Regions from separate parts of the Homo sapiens genome. Here region 1 is linked to region 2. A link means that fine-mapping ties the variant in region 2 to the expression of a gene that starts in the linked region. Tissue or cell type: whole blood. Region 2 holds a variant in brackets; the other region holds the start of a gene. All regions are shown on one strand. Distances are from middle to middle.

The links. PIP is the estimated chance that this variant, and not a neighbour inherited with it, causes the effect.
Region 1: FOXJ1 starts here. The variant in region 2 is fine-mapped to the expression of FOXJ1 in whole blood (TOPMed, PIP 0.96).

Annotation. Positions count from the first base shown.
Region 1 is chr17:76,137,502-76,145,581 of GRCh38, reverse strand. It overlaps FOXJ1 (forkhead box J1), which reads left to right and starts at 4,337. Exons shown (of 3, transcript NM_001454.4): 1 at 4,337-4,468; 2 at 5,018-5,684; 3 at 7,462-8,080. The coding sequence starts at 5,187. RNF157 (ring finger protein 157) reads left to right here. Exons shown (of 19, transcript NM_052916.3): 19 at 229-3,108. The coding sequence ends at 347. It overlaps RNF157-AS1 (RNF157 antisense RNA 1), which reads right to left and starts at 5,026. Exons shown (of 8, transcript NR_040017.1): 1 at 4,902-5,026; 2 at 2,234-2,352; 3 at 496-660; 4 at 18-160. RefSeq lists enhancers at 1-84, 1-200, 175-234, 201-749, 5,911-6,570 and 2 more and silencers at 4,342-4,501, 5,180-5,249, 5,310-5,499.
Region 2 is chr17:76,189,751-76,197,893 of GRCh38, reverse strand. The region is part of intron 2 of RNF157 (ring finger protein 157); the gene reads left to right. Among named protein-coding and RNA genes, the nearest start is that of RNF157, 47 kb to the left of the region's middle. RefSeq lists an enhancer at 6,623-7,122. The variant C/T (reference allele first, on the strand shown) is at 4,450.

The sequences.
Region 1 (8,080 bases), 52 kb after region 2:
AGTGGCAGTGACTGTACCTAGCCCAGGGGGCAGGAGCAGGCTCTGCACCTGTCAGCACCTGCTTCTCTCCGTTCTCACACACGAGTGCTGTGGCTCGCACCGTCATCGGAGTCTCAGGTGACACGCATCCTGCTCCTTCCGTGCCGGCTCCTGGGCTGCCCTGCTGGAGACACCATCTGGATTTGGCCAAAGGTCTGGCTCCTGTAATGTTCATTTTCTCTTCCCCAGGTGCCTGGCAGGCTGATGACAATGCCGTCAGTCGGAATGCCCAGCGCCGGCGCTTGTCATCCAGCAGCCTGGAGGACTCTGAGACGAGGCCCTGTGTGTGGGGCCCTTTGGCTGTCTGAGCCCCAGCCTCTGCACTTGGGCTCCCCTCCTGCCCTGCATTCCATCCATCCTCACTCAGCTGCTGCCTACTGGGCATCCTCAGCAAGATGCTGGAGACTTTTTACCCTCCTGTGACAGCTGTTACAACCTGTAACCACAATCCCTCACCTCTCAGAGGGAACTGGAACCCTCCTTTCTCCGTGTGACCTAAAGCCACTCAATGAACTGCAGCTCACGAGACCTTTTGCAGGGACTCTGGAATGTCCTCACGGTATATTGATGTTCAGGTGGAGCTGGGGTCCATGGGCTAATTTCTTACACATCTTTTTTCTCCTTAGGGGGTAGAACAAGAAGGCTTAGAGTTTGGCAGCTTTGTTACAAACATCCCTCTGGCATTTCCTGGTCTCTGGCACATCATAACCAATTGGAAACCTGCAGTTTGGGGTAGGGCTGGAGGATCGCTCCTGTGGAAAGGGAGAGCCATACTGCACGGACGTAGCGTTTCCCTCTACAAGCACTAGGAGCACCTTTCTCAAGGACAAGAAATGGTAGCAACCAAAAGGTTGGTTGAAGGAAACAATCCTTCCTTCTGGTGGCAGAGCCAGTCTTCTGGGCCTCACATGCCTGTGCGGTTAAGAAGGAGCTCTTGGCCGGGCGCGGTGGCTCACGCCTGTAATCCCAGCACTTTGGGAGGCCGAGGCGGGTGGATCATGAGATCAGGAGATCGAGACCATCCTGGCTAACACGGCGAAACCCCGTCTCTACTAAAAATACAAAAAATTAGCTGGGCATGGTTGCAGGCGCCTGTAGTCCCAGCTACTTGGGAGGCTGAGGCAGGAGAATGGCCTGAACCCGGGAGGCGGAGCTTGCAGTGAGCCGAGATCGCGCCAATGCACTCCAGCCTGGGCGACAGAGAAAAAAAAAAAAAAAGAAGGAGCCCTTGAATCTGAGAATCCCCCAGTTAAGATGATTTCCCTTAAGGAGCATTTCTCCTGATCAGGTGCATTCAGGGAGGCCTGCAACTCCATCCTAAGGTGACATTTCAAGAAACACATGTGTTGACCACCTCTGTGTGCCAAGCACTGGGTGAGGAGTGGTCGTATATTACCATAATTCATCCTCACTCAATTGGGAGGTGGCATTCTTGTCCCTGTTGCCCCCATCTCTACCCCCTTTTGTTAATGGTTGAGAGAAATGTGGACCAGTGATTCTCAGTTTGGTGCCCAGGTCCCCAAAGGAAGTGATGGAGAGCCTTGAGCTAAGTTCAGGCAGCAGCATGTGGCCAGCAGCAGTGTGCTGGGAGCAGAGGTTGGAATCAGGGCTCAGGGCCTTCACTTCAAGGGCCCTCCCCAGCTACTCGGGAGGCTGAGGCAGGAGAATCGCTTGAACTCAGGAGGTGGAGGTTGCGGTGAGCCAAGATCGTGCCACTGCACTCCAGCCTGGGCTACAAGATTGAAAAGATCGAAACTCTGTCTCAAACAAAAAAAAAAAAATTCAAGGCTGTTTCCAAGGCAGCCTCAAAAAGAGCCTGGTGCCCAGGGGGTCCTTCGTTTCTGTGTGGCTGCAGAGGCCAGGAGTGCAGTGACTGTCTCACTGCCTAGTGGTTGTGGCTCACATCCTGCCCTGATGGAGAGGGGGGCCTGTCGTCCAACCCTCTCTGAAAAACTGCAGTAGACTTTACCATTTCAGGCCCCACCTAATGTTCTTTCCTTCCTTCCCCCTACATTCTTCCCGCCCCTTTCATAGTTAAGATGCATAAGCTGAGCAATAACCCCACTTCCTGATTTCCCTGAAATATGAGCCCAGAAGCAGCAGGTGACAGGGAGCTTCCCTTACCCTGGGGTGGTGGCACACAGACCACCTCCTGTCCTGTCCCCTGCAGGTAGTATTCACAGTGTGGTGTTACCTGGGAGGAGGGAGGAAGGAGCTGAGATGAAGGAGATTCAGGTAAACAGTAGCCACAGTGGCCAGGACCCCCTTCCTGAGGATCCCTGTCCTTCCTCGCAGCAGGTGCTTAGTCCTCTCCTAGGGAGAAGCACGGAAAGATTCCTCAAGGCCTCAGTCCCATGTCCAAGGCATACCTAGGTTAGAAATGTCCTTTACTTGTTTCTCAGTTACTATTTCTCCTCTTCCTCCCTCCCCCTGCCTTCTCTTGGCTGTCATTTAGCTCTCTGGCCCACAGAAATACTCCATCCAAGGAGCTGGTCCTCAGTCAGCCTGATGAGGACAGGTCAGTGGCCAACCCTTTTGCCCCAGTCCTTCATCTGGAGACAGTCACATAGTCACGTCAACAGTTCACCCAAAGAGAAGAGGTGGGGCCTGGCTTCTCCCACAGGGCACAGCCTAACTATGGAGACCCAGGGCTCCTTCCTGCTGCACTAGGCCTGTGCTCTCCCTATTGCCTTCAGGTGGTGTGATCCCGGCTTCCTCACAGAGCCCTTTTTTCCTTCTGCCCAGCTCCATCCCACCAGAGTTTCTACCCCCGCTGAGGCATCTCCTGGGCACAGACCACCACACTCTAAGCCGGCTGGCCTGGGAGTTAGGGTCCTGCCCACCTCACCTGGGAGTTGGGGTCCTGCCCACCTGGAGTTTAGCACGCTGGTCGCTCACTTTGCTTTGGTCTGCACACCTGGTGTGTGCATGTGTATACTGCTTGTGCCATCTGTGTACCCCTCTCCCTGGAGTACACTTGTGGTCACACTACAGTGGGGACATCAAGAATGCAATATTTATGGATTGCTGCATGATTCTTAAAAATGAATAAAACTGTTTACAAGGGAAGGAGAGCTAACTGCAAAGTGAGCTTATCTGTGAAAGTTTCTGTCTGACTTTCGCCAGCACTCTTTAATACTTTTACTCAAGAGGATCTGGAGTTGGAGGAGTGGGAGAGGCAAGGGCTAGGGAAAGGCATGTTGGCGGGGGAGTGATGCGCCATAGCCGGGCCTTCTTCATGGTCTGGGCACCAGCCTCCCCGACCCCGGCTCTCCAGCTCCTGGGCAGAGGCGGGGTAATCAACCCAGCCCCCACCACTGCCTCTGCAGCCGCCTTAAACCGGAGAACGTCCAACCCTGCAGCTCCTCAATAATTAAAGAGCAGGAAAGCTGGTGACAGGAGGGAGGCCAGGGGAAGGGAGGAGGAAGGGACACAGTCCCCAGAGTCCCTCTACTCTTAATCCCTGTGACTTAAAGGTTGGTGAAATTAATTGGGCAAATGACCCCGCTAGGAGAATTTGACAAGTCCATGACTTCAGAGTTTTACCCACGGGCTCTGCTTCATCAGCTGTCTCCAGAGGAGTGAGTGCGCTTCTGCAGAAGCCTCTGGAATGTCAGCTTCCTGGAACCTCGAGGATACGGGTGGGGAAGGAGCTGCTTACTGGGACACACTGGATTACCCTACCCCCTTGGTGTGTCTGCCGCCTCTGTGGATGTAAGCGGCAGGTGGCATCGGAAAGTCAGACCTGCCTGGGACACCAGAGAAAGACCCTAAGAGTCGGGGGAGAGGGAAAGGCTGCAGAAACATGAGAAAGTGCCACTCGTAGCGGAGAGGAAAGAAAACCTCAAGGATACGGTTCCCGAGCCTGAGCCCGCTCCCAGCCTTAGCCCCCCAACCCCAGGCTCCGTCCCAGGAGCAGTCGACGCCTCAAAGCGTACGGGACAGGAAGGGGGTGGGGGCGAGAGTCTTGGTTCCCCAGAACGAACGGATCCATAGCGGTTCCCGGTGCCGCAGGCCGCGCGCTTCTCCGACCCCAGCGCGGGGCCCTCGGGCGGGAATGAGCCGAGCCGGGACTTAGCGGCGGGTAGGGGGTTGGGTGGCGCGGGAGAGGGCGGCAGAAGGAGGGAGTTCGAAGAGAGTTGCCGCCAGGGAGAGTGGCAAGTGCCCGCGGTCTCCTTGGAGACGTGCTGGCCAATGGCAGAGGCGGAAGCTGTTTATGGGGGCGGAGCGTCGCCATGGCAGCAGGAGAAGCCTTTGGAGCGGCTACTTAATGCCGGTCCCGGGGCCGCGGTAGCTCAGAGAAGCGCCGTCGGGCGGGGGGGCGGCAAGAGGCGCTGGCAGGGCCCCCGAGCTGGGGGCAGAGAGCCGCAGGGGGTGGGAGCAACTTCTTCCAGAACCTTCCTCTGGCCCGGGCTGCGCTCTGAGCCAGGTAAGGGATGGGGAGGGCTGCAGGCCAGGGGGAAGGGTGGGCAACGGTACCAACCCGCTCTCTCATTCGTCCTTAACGGAAGTGGTGGGCCCAGGGACTGACATCGGAGAAGTCTGGGGGAAACTCGCCTCCTGCCCCCCGTTACTGTTCCGTCCCCTTCCTTCCCAATGATCCCCTATCATAATATTCCTTTTCAAGGATCAGAGGACCTCCACCGCCCCCGCCCCGTCGTACCGCCCTCCCAAACTTCTCGCCCCACTTCCATTTGTTGCGAGGAGGAAGGGGGTCCTGATTTCCTGCTCTTCGGGAGAAAAGGATAGCCTCGGATGCCCCTACCCTCTTCATTTGGCTAATAAAACCTCGAAGAGGAAAGGAAGAGGGAGGCAGATCTGATGGGGGTGGGACCCCAGGGCCTTGCTTCTGTTTCCCATACCTCGGCACTAAAAGATCCTCCCCAGCTGCGGGGATGATGTTAGAGAGGGCGTCCCCGTACACACACTGTCCCCTCGGGGGTGGGGTAGTGCTCAGCTCCCACCGTGGTCCTCGCAGGCACCACATACTTATTCGGAGGAGGCGCCCCCGGGGTCGCGAGATGGAAGCGCGCGTCCGGGAGGCCGTGTAACGGGAGCTGCGGGACTCAGCGGGCCAGAGAGCGCGGCGGGCCACCCCCGGCTCAGCCCGTGGATGCTGACCGCCCCCTCGGAGAGTCCCCGCAGACATGGCGGAGAGCTGGCTGCGCCTCTCGGGAGCCGGGCCGGCGGAGGAGGCCGGGCCGGAGGGCGGCCTGGAGGAGCCCGACGCCCTGGATGACAGCCTGACCAGCCTGCAGTGGCTGCAGGAATTCTCCATTCTCAACGCCAAGGCCCCCGCCCTGCCCCCGGGGGGCACCGACCCCCACGGCTACCACCAGGTGCCAGGTTCAGCGGCGCCCGGGTCCCCCCTGGCGGCCGACCCCGCCTGCCTGGGGCAGCCACACACGCCGGGCAAGCCCACGTCGTCGTGCACGTCGCGGAGCGCGCCCCCGGGGCTGCAGGCCCCACCCCCCGACGACGTGGACTACGCCACCAATCCGCACGTGAAGCCTCCCTACTCGTATGCCACGCTCATCTGCATGGCCATGCAGGCCAGCAAGGCCACCAAGATCACCCTGTCGGCCATCTACAAGTGGATCACGGACAACTTCTGCTACTTCCGCCACGCAGATCCCACCTGGCAGGTAGAGGAGGCACGGGCGGCGGCCGCTCCCTCCCCATTCCCTCCTCGCTCCCCACGCTGCACTGGATTCATATCCCAAATCTGCAGGCCAAGTAGGCTCTGCGGTGCGGCCAGCGCCCCAGAAGGGAGCCCTGCAAAGGAGCCCAGTTCTTGCAACTGCCCCTCCTTTGACTTCCAGAGAGAGAGAGAGAGAGAAGGGAGAATGTCCAGAGGTGGAGGGCTTTAGGGGTGCAGAGGCTGAGATTCAAGGGGAAATAACCTGCCATTCATCCAGCAGGCCCAGGCCAAAGACCAGGGCTAGACTCTGCGTGGACAGAATCTCCTTGGGGAGAGCGATGAACTGAAGGCGCATTCTTGTCCCAAGTCCTAGAATTCCTAGACACTGCCCTGCCCCGGGATGGTTTGTCGGGGCCGGGAGTCAGAAACGGAAACTGGAACGTGGCCTCCCTGCCAGGCTCTACGTCCTGCCCTTTTGCAGTTGGCTTGGGGAGGGTGGAATGGAAGGGGTGCCTTAGCATGTGAGGGCCAGGTGTGTCCCAATGGAGGGTGGAGGGGGTAAGGGGCCTTCCTAAAGCTGCTGTCCCAGCCCCCCACCTCAACCTCTGCTCAGTTTCCTGCCTCCAACCCCCGCTGTCAGCCAACCTCCCTGGGGGGACAATTACCTGAGCCAGGTGCCTTCCACTGGGGCTCTGCCTACCACACTCACTTCGTGTTCCACGTCTCTGGAACCAGGCACTGAGCAGCCAAGGGGCCCAGGCCACCATGTAAACATCCCAGCCTTGCTGCCGGGCATTATCCACCCACCTGCCCTGCCGTCCCAGCCCAGGACCCCTGTCCCCCAGCAGGCTTTGGACAAGATTAAGCACCTAAGAATGGACAAGGCAGGAGGATGGTGGATTTGAGGCTGGGTAGGCAGTGCCCTAAGAGTCTTCAGCCATCACCATCAAGGGCTAGTTGGAGTCAGGGGCCCCCCAAGGACGCCCAGACTCTTCCCTGAAGCACCCAAAGCGGGCAGGCCACAGGACCGCAGTCCCAAGCCATTTCCAATGCCCCTGACCCTAGAGCAGGGTCATTTGCAGCTGCACCGAAAAAGCAGAGACCCTCAGCCCCACCCTACCCTAAGCCTGTGCAGCTGCGCTTCGAGAAACGGGCCCCAGGAATGAGTGCTATGCTCTTAGCTCTTGGCTGGGTAATAATCAACTGAGCCTGGAGTGGGGGGAGGGGGCCGTGGGGGGTGAAGGCCCAGGCCAGCAGCCGGCTCAACAAACAAGGAAAGTCATCAGATCCCCCACCTCTCATCCCTGCGCGCTCTCTCTCTCTCTCCCCCTTCCTCTCCACTCTCGGCTGCCCAGCCCCCTCCCTGGACCCACTCACTCACAGAGAGGGCCAGCCAGGCCCAGGCAAAGGGAGACGGTGGTCCAGGCCCTGGGGGAGCCGAGGGCTTTGGCCAGAGGCTGTCAGCGGCAGGGTGAGGGAGGGAGGGCAGGCGACGGGGGTGGCACCGAGAGCCACCCTGCGGCTCAGAGCTCGGATGACTGAGCAGGCAGATATCCCGGCAACAGGGAACAAAAGCCTCCGACAGCACTCCGGGCTCCCAGTGCCCTGTGGCTGGTGTCCCAGAGCTGCAGCCGCCTGGGCAGACCAGTGTGTCTGTCCCCCCCTCCTCTCCCCTGCCAGAGAAAAGATGGGGGGTGCGCAGCAGCGCCAGGTGCCATTTCATCTCCCCGTCCCCACTGACCTAGCGGTTCCTCTCTCTCTTGCTCTCTCCCTGCACCCAGAATTCAATCCGCCACAACCTGTCTCTGAACAAGTGCTTCATCAAAGTGCCTCGGGAGAAGGACGAACCAGGCAAGGGGGGCTTCTGGCGCATTGACCCCCAGTACGCGGAGCGGCTACTGAGCGGCGCTTTCAAGAAGCGGCGACTGCCCCCTGTCCACATCCACCCAGCCTTTGCCCGCCAGGCCGCGCAGGAGCCCAGCGCTGTCCCCCGGGCCGGGCCGCTGACGGTGAATACCGAGGCCCAGCAGCTGCTGCGGGAGTTCGAGGAGGCCACCGGGGAGGCGGGCTGGGGTGCAGGCGAGGGCAGGCTGGGGCATAAGCGCAAACAGCCGCTGCCCAAGCGGGTGGCCAAGGTCCCGCGGCCCCCCAGCACCCTGCTGCCCACCCCGGAGGAGCAGGGTGAGCTGGAACCCCTCAAAGGCAACTTTGACTGGGAGGCCATCTTCGACGCCGGCACTCTGGGCGGGGAGCTGGGTGCACTGGAGGCCCTGGAGCTGAGCCCGCCTCTGAGCCCCGCCTCACACGTGGACGTGGACCTCACCATCCACGGCCGCCACATCGACTGCCCTGCCACCTGGGGGCCTTCGGTGGAGCAGGCTGCCGACAGCCTGGACTTCG
Region 2 (8,143 bases):
GACGTTCCCATCTCAAGTCTTAGAGTTCACTCCTTCCCTACCAGGGCCTGAATCTGGCACAGTAGACTAGTATAGGCTGAGAGTTCATCCTTTTTGATTCTGCCACTCTTAAAATTAGGTCTTGTGCCTGCAGGAAATGATTGTCTTTAAATGCTGCCAAAGCAGCCTGGCATGGTGGCACATCTGTAATCCCAGCACTCGGGAGGCTGAGGTGGGAAGATGGCTTGAGACAGAAGTTTGAGGCTGCAGTGAACTATGTTCACACCACTGCACTCCAAGCCTGGGTACCATATTGAGACCCTATCTCAAATAAATTAATAAATAAGTAAAAATTGCCAAAGGAAGCTTACTGACTATCATAGCTGGCTTTATTTCTTTATTTTTAGTTTTTCTTATAAAGATGGGGTCTTGCTGTGTTGCCCAGGGTGGTCTCAAACACCTGGCCTCAAGTGATCTTCCCGCCTCAGCCTTCCAAATTTCTGGGATTACAGGCATGAGCCACCACATCCAGGCTCATAGTTGGCTTTACATTTTTGATTGCTATACCTGAAACTCATTTTCTCTTTTCAATGAAACAGTCCTCTTAATAGCAGTCACCCAGTTTCACAGTCCTTACTGTAACTGTTTCTCCTGTACCTCCTGTACCAAGACATCAAAATCGCCTGGATATTATACAGCCCCGTGTCTCCTATTCCCCTTCACCACAGGGGAATGTCTGCAGCATGCTGGGGACCATCCACTTTCCACCCACCTCAGTGATGGGTCCTCATTGCCATCTGGCTGTGGGTGATCCACCCCCAAATTCCATCCATAGACAACATCTGATATCAACCGGTTTAGGTTGGGTTCTCTGGGAGCAAAGCCTGAGATGGAGATCTTTGTGAAAGCTGTTTATTGAGGGAATGCTCTCTAGAGATGAGGAAGACAGATGGGGCAGTGGAGCAAAACCAAACATGAGTGCGGTCTTGGCCAAGACCCATTTTGGCCTGGTCCCACGGGAAAGCTTTGGAGTACAGCTTGTACCACAGAGTTGCTTCATCTCAAGGTAAAGGGGCCAGCTTTTTGTACAGCCCTGTCAATCAGTCACTGGCTGTTGGTGGCTGTCCTGGAGTGAGATAGGGAATCAGGAAGACTCTTGGATCAGGTGGCTCTGGTTCCCAGTTCTTGGAGAAGGGGTAGCTATGGCTGTTTGTAGCCAAAACTCTCCACAGCAGGGGTACAGAGACCTGGGGAGGGAGTTGGGGAAGGTTGGGACGCCAGCACATGACTACACTCCCGTACATACTTCGGCCCTTGCTTTTTAATTTAATGGTGTATCATATTGGAGATCATTCTAGATCCATTTACCTAGGGCTGACTTGTCCTCTTTAAAAATATTTATTGATGTATAACATACACACAGAAAGATGACAAGTCATCCATGCACAGTTGATTTTCACAAAGTGAGCCCTCCGCTGTGGCCAGCATTCAGATGAAGAAGTAGCACATGGCCAGCACCCCCAGAAGCTCCCCTTCTGCTCCTTTCCTGTTGTTACCTCTAGCCTAAGGTAACCGCAATCCTAACTTCTGTCCTGGTTTGAACTTTATATAAGTGGAACTGTGTTCAATTTGCTCTTTAATGTCTGGCTCCTTTCACTCAGCATCTTTGTGACATTTATTTATCTCATGGTAGCTTAGCCCAGGAGGGTCCTTGGCTTTGCTCAGGAAAGAATTTAAGAGCCAGTGGTGGAAGAAAACAGCTTTATTGAGGCGGCAGTGTTACAGCTCTGTGACTGCTCCTGCAGAGCAGGGCTACCCAAAGGCAGTGTGTTGAGAGTAGCGGCTCAGAGCAGGTTTGTAATCATATTTATACCCACTTTTAATTATGTGCAAATTAAGGGACAAATTATAAAGAAATTTCAAGAAGGATAGTACCTTCCGGGTCATTGGGTCATTGCCATGAAAGAGGGTGGTAACTTCCAGGTGTTGCCGTGGCAATAGTAAACTGACATGGCACACACTGACAGGTATGGGAGGTATGGGCTATCTTATGGAAAGCTGCTTCTGCCCAGTCCCTGTTTTAGCTTGTGCTCAATTTAGTCTGATGTGCGAGCCCCACCTCTGGAGTTGAGTCTCACTTCTTGAGTCAAGTCCTACATCCTACCTCAATGGCGTACAGCAACGAGAAGGAACAAACTATTCCTGTGCTGTGTACGGTTCATTTCCATTGCTGCATAGTATTTCATTGTGTGAATACACCATAATTTATCCACTCTATTGTTTGCAGGCATTGAGCTTTTTTGGGGCATTTTGGCTATTACACATAGTGCTGCTATGAACGTTCTATTATTACATGTATTTTGTTGTGTATATGTATGCATACCTGTTAAGGCTATAGCTAGGAGAATTGCTGAGTCATAGAATATGCTGTAGTAGATACCGCTAACCGCTTTTCAAAGTGATTCTACCAATTTTTTTTTCCCACTAGCAGTGTTTAGAATGTCCAGCACCTAGTATTTTCCATCTTTTTAATCTTAGCCATTGTGGTAGGTTTGTAGAATTTATTTTCATTTTCCCGATAACCAATGAAGTTGGAGAGACAGGTGATCTCCTGGTTACGTGGTGTCTGGAAAAAGATCTAGGGGTCTAAATGCTTTTCACACCAACCCCAGTCTCCTGTTTCCAGCCTTGCTCTACCCCGCTTGTAGGAGGACCTACACCTCCATTTCCTAAGCCTGTCTGGAGTTCTGTGACATGAATATGTTTCTGCCATTTGGGATTTCGGCCCTTTCTGTTCTCCTGAATCGCTTTCCACTTGTCAGTGTGTGTTTCAGCTTCCAAGTTTTTATTATAATATCCTCTCCCATTCCCTCTGCTCTTGTGTTTTGTTTTGTTTTTTTGAGACAGAGTCTCGCTCTGTCACCCAGGCTGGAGTGCAGTGGTGCTATCTCGGCTCACTGTAAACTCCACCTCCCGGGTTCACGCCATTCTGCTGCCTCAGCCTCCTGAGTAGCTGGGACTACAGGCGCCCGCCACCACGCCTGGCTAATTTTTTGTATTTTTAGTAGAGACGGGGTTTCACCATGTTAGCCAGGATGGTCTCGATCTCCTGACCTCGTGATCTGCCCACCTTGGCCTCCCAAAGTGCTGGGATTACAGGTGTGAGCCACCGTGCCCGGCCTGCTCTTGTGGTTTTATATTTTTCTCTCTCTCTTTTTAAATCTCTTTACTATTGTTTTAGTAGCAATTCAGAAGAAAGCAGAGTTATCTAAACTGGAAGGAAACCTAATCGTGTCTGGTACTGTATATTATACAATCATGGAAGAGGACATAGGCCATTTCTATAGAGACTATTTTAAATGAGTTATTTGTCTTTGGGTTTAAACTATCCACTTCACAGCCCACTAAGAAGCGTCCTGCTTTCGGGGGTCTTTCAGCAGAGCCTGCAGAGTCATCTCAGGCTCTAGTGAATTTACCGCCCTTCCCACCATCAGACTGGCTTCACTATTTCTGATGTATTTGAAAGTCTCCTATGGTGGCTGAGTGCGTGGTGTTCTATGCGAACTGAATGAGGCCTTTGGCTATTTTACTTAAGCATTGTAAAGAGTGTTGTGTCATTCTGGAAAGAGCAAAACGATAGAGATAAGAAATAGATCAATGGTTGCCAGGGACTGGGGTGCATGGAGGAGTTGACTAGAGAGGGCACAAGGGAATGTGGGGGTAATGGAAATGTTCTTTATTTTGTTTGTAATGGTGGTTACACTGTTGTGTGTGTTTGTCAAAATTCACAGAACTGTACACCAAAAAGGCTGAATTTTACTGTATATAAATTATACCTTGATAAACAAACCAACAAAAAAACAGAATGTGCCTTGGAAAGAGGTGATTAATAGAAATGTGATTGCCTTCTCTGTGGCCTGGTTCCCATGTAGTCCAGGGAGTCCCGTTTGTGGACGTGTACCCCAGAGAAGTGGTAGCCGTGTCCCCCAGGGCTGTCTGTGGATGTGGAGGTGGGAGGGGTAGCAGGGCAGCATTGCTCCTGCATCAGCAGCCCTCGGCCAGGCGCTAATCTCAGATCTGAAACTATGGGTGCGGCAGCCTCACTGCAGGATGCGGGAGAGCCTGCCCAGGAGCTGTGCCTCAGACCTCTGTTTTGTTTTCTCGCTCAGCTCCTGATTGTTTCGGATCAGGCTTCAGAAGTCACGTTTGTTTGTTAGACAGTCAGGGTCACAACAGACAAAAGGAGAACGTGCTTAACTCTCACGTTACCTTAGACAGTGTCTTCCATTTCCCTAGTGATCCTAAACCGAGAATCTCAGAGAGCCTTTCAGTCACTATGGTAGAAACTTGTATGTGTCCGTGGGTGGGGGGTGGTGGGGGTAGCTGTTTCCAAGATGTTAAATTCCAGTAGAATATAGGGCAGATCTACAATAATTCTTCTGGGTCACGACCAAGTGAGATATATCCTAA[C/T]TGTATTTACTTCAAGTGCTTTGGGATTTGTAGATAAGAGATACTTACCTAATTGCTTGTATTTCATTTGTGCATTATTTTTTCCAAGCATTCAAAATAGCATTACAAGTTCTTTAATGAAGATGTTATCACTAATGCTAATCACTAAGGATCACTAATGATAACATATATTTTTATAGCACTGTATGGTTTTCAAAACATTTTTATTTGATCTTAATGACCCTATGAGATAGACAGAAGCTATAAATCTCATTTTACAGATAAGGACATTGATGCTCAGAGATGTTAAGTTATTTGCCCAAAGTCTTGTGTATGAAGTGAGAGAAGGCTGAGTGCTCTGGCCCACGCCTGTAATCCCAGCATGTTGGGAGGCCGAGGCGGGAGGATCACTTGAGCTCTGGAGTTTGAGACCAGCCTGGGAAACAGCGAGGTCCCGTCTCTACAAAAAGTCAAAAATTAGCTAGGTGTGGTGGCGCGCGGCTGTTACTCACGTGGCTGAAGTGGGAGAATCACTTGAGCCTGAGAGGTTGAGACTGCAGTGATGGCCATCGCAGTCACCCTGTGCAAGAGAGCGGATGCTGTCTCAAAAAAAAAAAAAAAAAAGGAAAGAAAGTGGGAGAGCTGAAACAAGAACCTGTGTCTTCTGGCTGTTGATATCATACTTGTTTTATTAAATCATTTCATCTTCATTTTCCAGTCTTTCATACAACTCACTGGCAGAACCAGAGGGTTTCAGCTGCTAGTCAAGCTTACTCAGTATTACTCCACAAACCCTTAATTTAAAAACACATGGTGGTCTGTGTTTTTCAGTTATTTTGTGAGCATTAATTGTACCAGTCTGCCATTTAGTCTGCGGGGCAAATATTCAAAATCTAAAGAGTCACCATGGGCATATGCTGTACTCTTCCGAAGATCTTGTTGTTCGTGTATTCATTCTACAGACATCTATTTCTGCCTTCTGTATGTGCTGGTCTAATCACTAGGGGTAACACGAAGAGGATTCCTACATGGATTTTGCCCTCAAGTTTATAATTTCATGGAGAAGATCAGACTTGGACATACATAGCTATAATACAGAGCAGGGAGTGAAAAATGAAGTATAAAAATAGTCATGTAAAAGCTTGGAGAAAGGAACTTTATAATGTAAATGTTGCTGACTCGAAAAGTGCCACTAAGTGCTTGAACTTTTGCTTCGTTGTTTGATGCCATGTTTCTTAACAAACCAGAGTACAAAGAACTGCTGTGGTATTCAGTAGTGGAACTAAAGCATCTGTGTTGTAGGAATTTCCTCGAAATTTCTTTGAAACATATTGAAACCAAGTGTGCACACTCTCACCTCTGTTTCCTGTTGTCATTGTGCACCCCATCTGACGGGAAACTATACTTACTGGTTTTGCATTTCAAAGAAAAATCTGGTTAACTTTTTCAGCATTTAAAGAGATGCATAGTGGCCTTAACTGTTACTGAAACTGTTATATAAAAGTCTGTATTGTATTGTCAAAGACTTACGAGTCAAATAGCTTAACAGTTGATTACACGTAAATTTTGTCCCTAAGCAGCACACTTCATTCTCTAAGATGGTCTTTCCCGGCCAATCAAATAAAATAGTAGCCCTGATTATTACAGAAATTAATCAGACATATACTTTATCTTTACATTTTAATATTTTTTTAGACAGGGTCTGCCTCTGTCACCCAGGCTGAAGTGCAGTGGTGCAATTATAGCTCATTGTAGTTTCAACCTCCCAGGCTCAAGCAGTCCTCCCACGTCAGCCTTCCTAGGAGCTGGGACTACAGGCACATACCACTACACCTGGCTAATGTTTTTTTTTTTTTTTTTTTTTTGAGGCGGAGTCTTGCTCTGTCGCCCAGGCTGGAGTGCAGTGGCGTGATCTCAGCTCACTGCAACCTCCACCTCCGGGTTCAAGCAATTCTCTGCCTCAGCCTCCTGAGTAACTGGGATTACAGGTGCCTGCCACCACGCCCAGCTAATTTTTGTATTTTTAGTAGAGACAGGGTTTTGGCCAGGCTGGTCTTAAACTCCTGACCTCATGATCCTCCCGCCTCAGCCTCCCAAAGTGTTGGGATTACAGGTGTGAGCCACCGCGCCCAGCCCTAATTTTTTATTTTTTTGTAGAGACGGTGTCTCACTATGTTGCCCTAACCGATCTTGAACTCCTGGGCTCCAGCGATCCTCCTGCCTCAGCTTCCCAAAGTACTGGGATTATAGGCATAAGCCACCACACCCAGCCCACTTTATCTATAGAAGGCAGCACTGAACTTTAGGGTAAATGTTGGTATAATTATAGAATAGAATGTAGTCCTTAGCCATATTTTCTACTTATTAAAAACTTAAATGCTGGTAACACAAGAGGTTTATGTCCTCTGCTAATCCATATCGTAACTTTTTTTTTTTTCTTTTTGTAGAAACAGTCCCACTATGTTGCCCAGGCTGGTCTTGAACTCCTGGCCTCCCAAAGTGCCGGGACTACAGGTGTGAGCCACTGCATTCAGCCGTGTAAACTTTTTTTTTTTTTTGAGACAGAGTCTCGCCCTGTCGCCCAGGCTGGAGTGCAGTGGCACGATCTCGGCTCACTGCAAGCTCCGCCTCCCGGGTTCGTGCCATTCTTCTGTCTCAGCCTCTGGAGTAGCTGGGACTACAGGGCGCCTGCCACCATGCCCGGCTAATTTTTTGTGTTTTTAGTAGAGACGGGGTTTCATCGTGGTCTCGATCTCCTGACCTCGTGATCCACCCGTCTCGGCCTCCCAAAGTGCTGGGATTACAGGCGTGAGCCATCACGCCCGGCCGTAAACTATTTTTTTAATTCTTTTTTTTTTTTTTTGAGATGGGGTCTCACTCTGTCACCCAGGCTGGAGTGCAGTGGCATGATCATGGCTCACTGCAGCTTTGACTTCCCTGGACTCAAGCGATTTCCCTGGACACTGTGCCCAGTGTAAACTATTTTTAAAAGAGAGAATGGCCAAGCACAGTGGCTCACACCTGTAATCCCAGCACTTTGGGAAGCTGAGGCAGGCAGATCACTTGGGGCCAGGGGTTTGAGGCCAGCCTGGCCAACATGGCGAAACTCCGTCTCTACTAAAAATATAAAAATTAGCTGGGTATGGTGGCACGTGCCTGTGGACCTAGCTATTCAGGAGGCTGAGGCAAGGGAATTACTTGAACCCGGGAGGTGGAAGTCGCAGTGAGGCGAAATTGTGCCACTGCACTCCAGCCTGGTTGACAGTGAGAATCTATTTCAAAAAAAAAAAAAAAAGAGAGAGCAAGCAGTTAGCCTGAGCACTTAACAGAAGTAAGGGTAATAAGTATCAGTGGGTCACATCTACCCTTTACAAAGTTATTTGTCTCCACAATTCCACTGTTATTTCCTGGCCCCACACCACCCTGTGAACACTGGGGCTGGGACTCTGCGGCTCTCTCCATTGCTTGCTACACTTGGCCATGTGCTGCCAGTGGGAGGTGCTGGAAGGTCTACAGGGCTGGAGGAGAAGGACCCACTGCTTCTTGCGCCTGGCTGTTCCTATGACCACCATCCCAGCAATGCCTTTTCATCCCACCAGCTGCAGTTTGTTTCAGCCTTCAGTTGTTTTTGTTTGTGTTCTCCTCCCAACAAACCCAGAACCAGCTGGGCAGTACCCTCACCTCAGAAGTCTGAGTCCCAGCTTCGGAGGGTCCC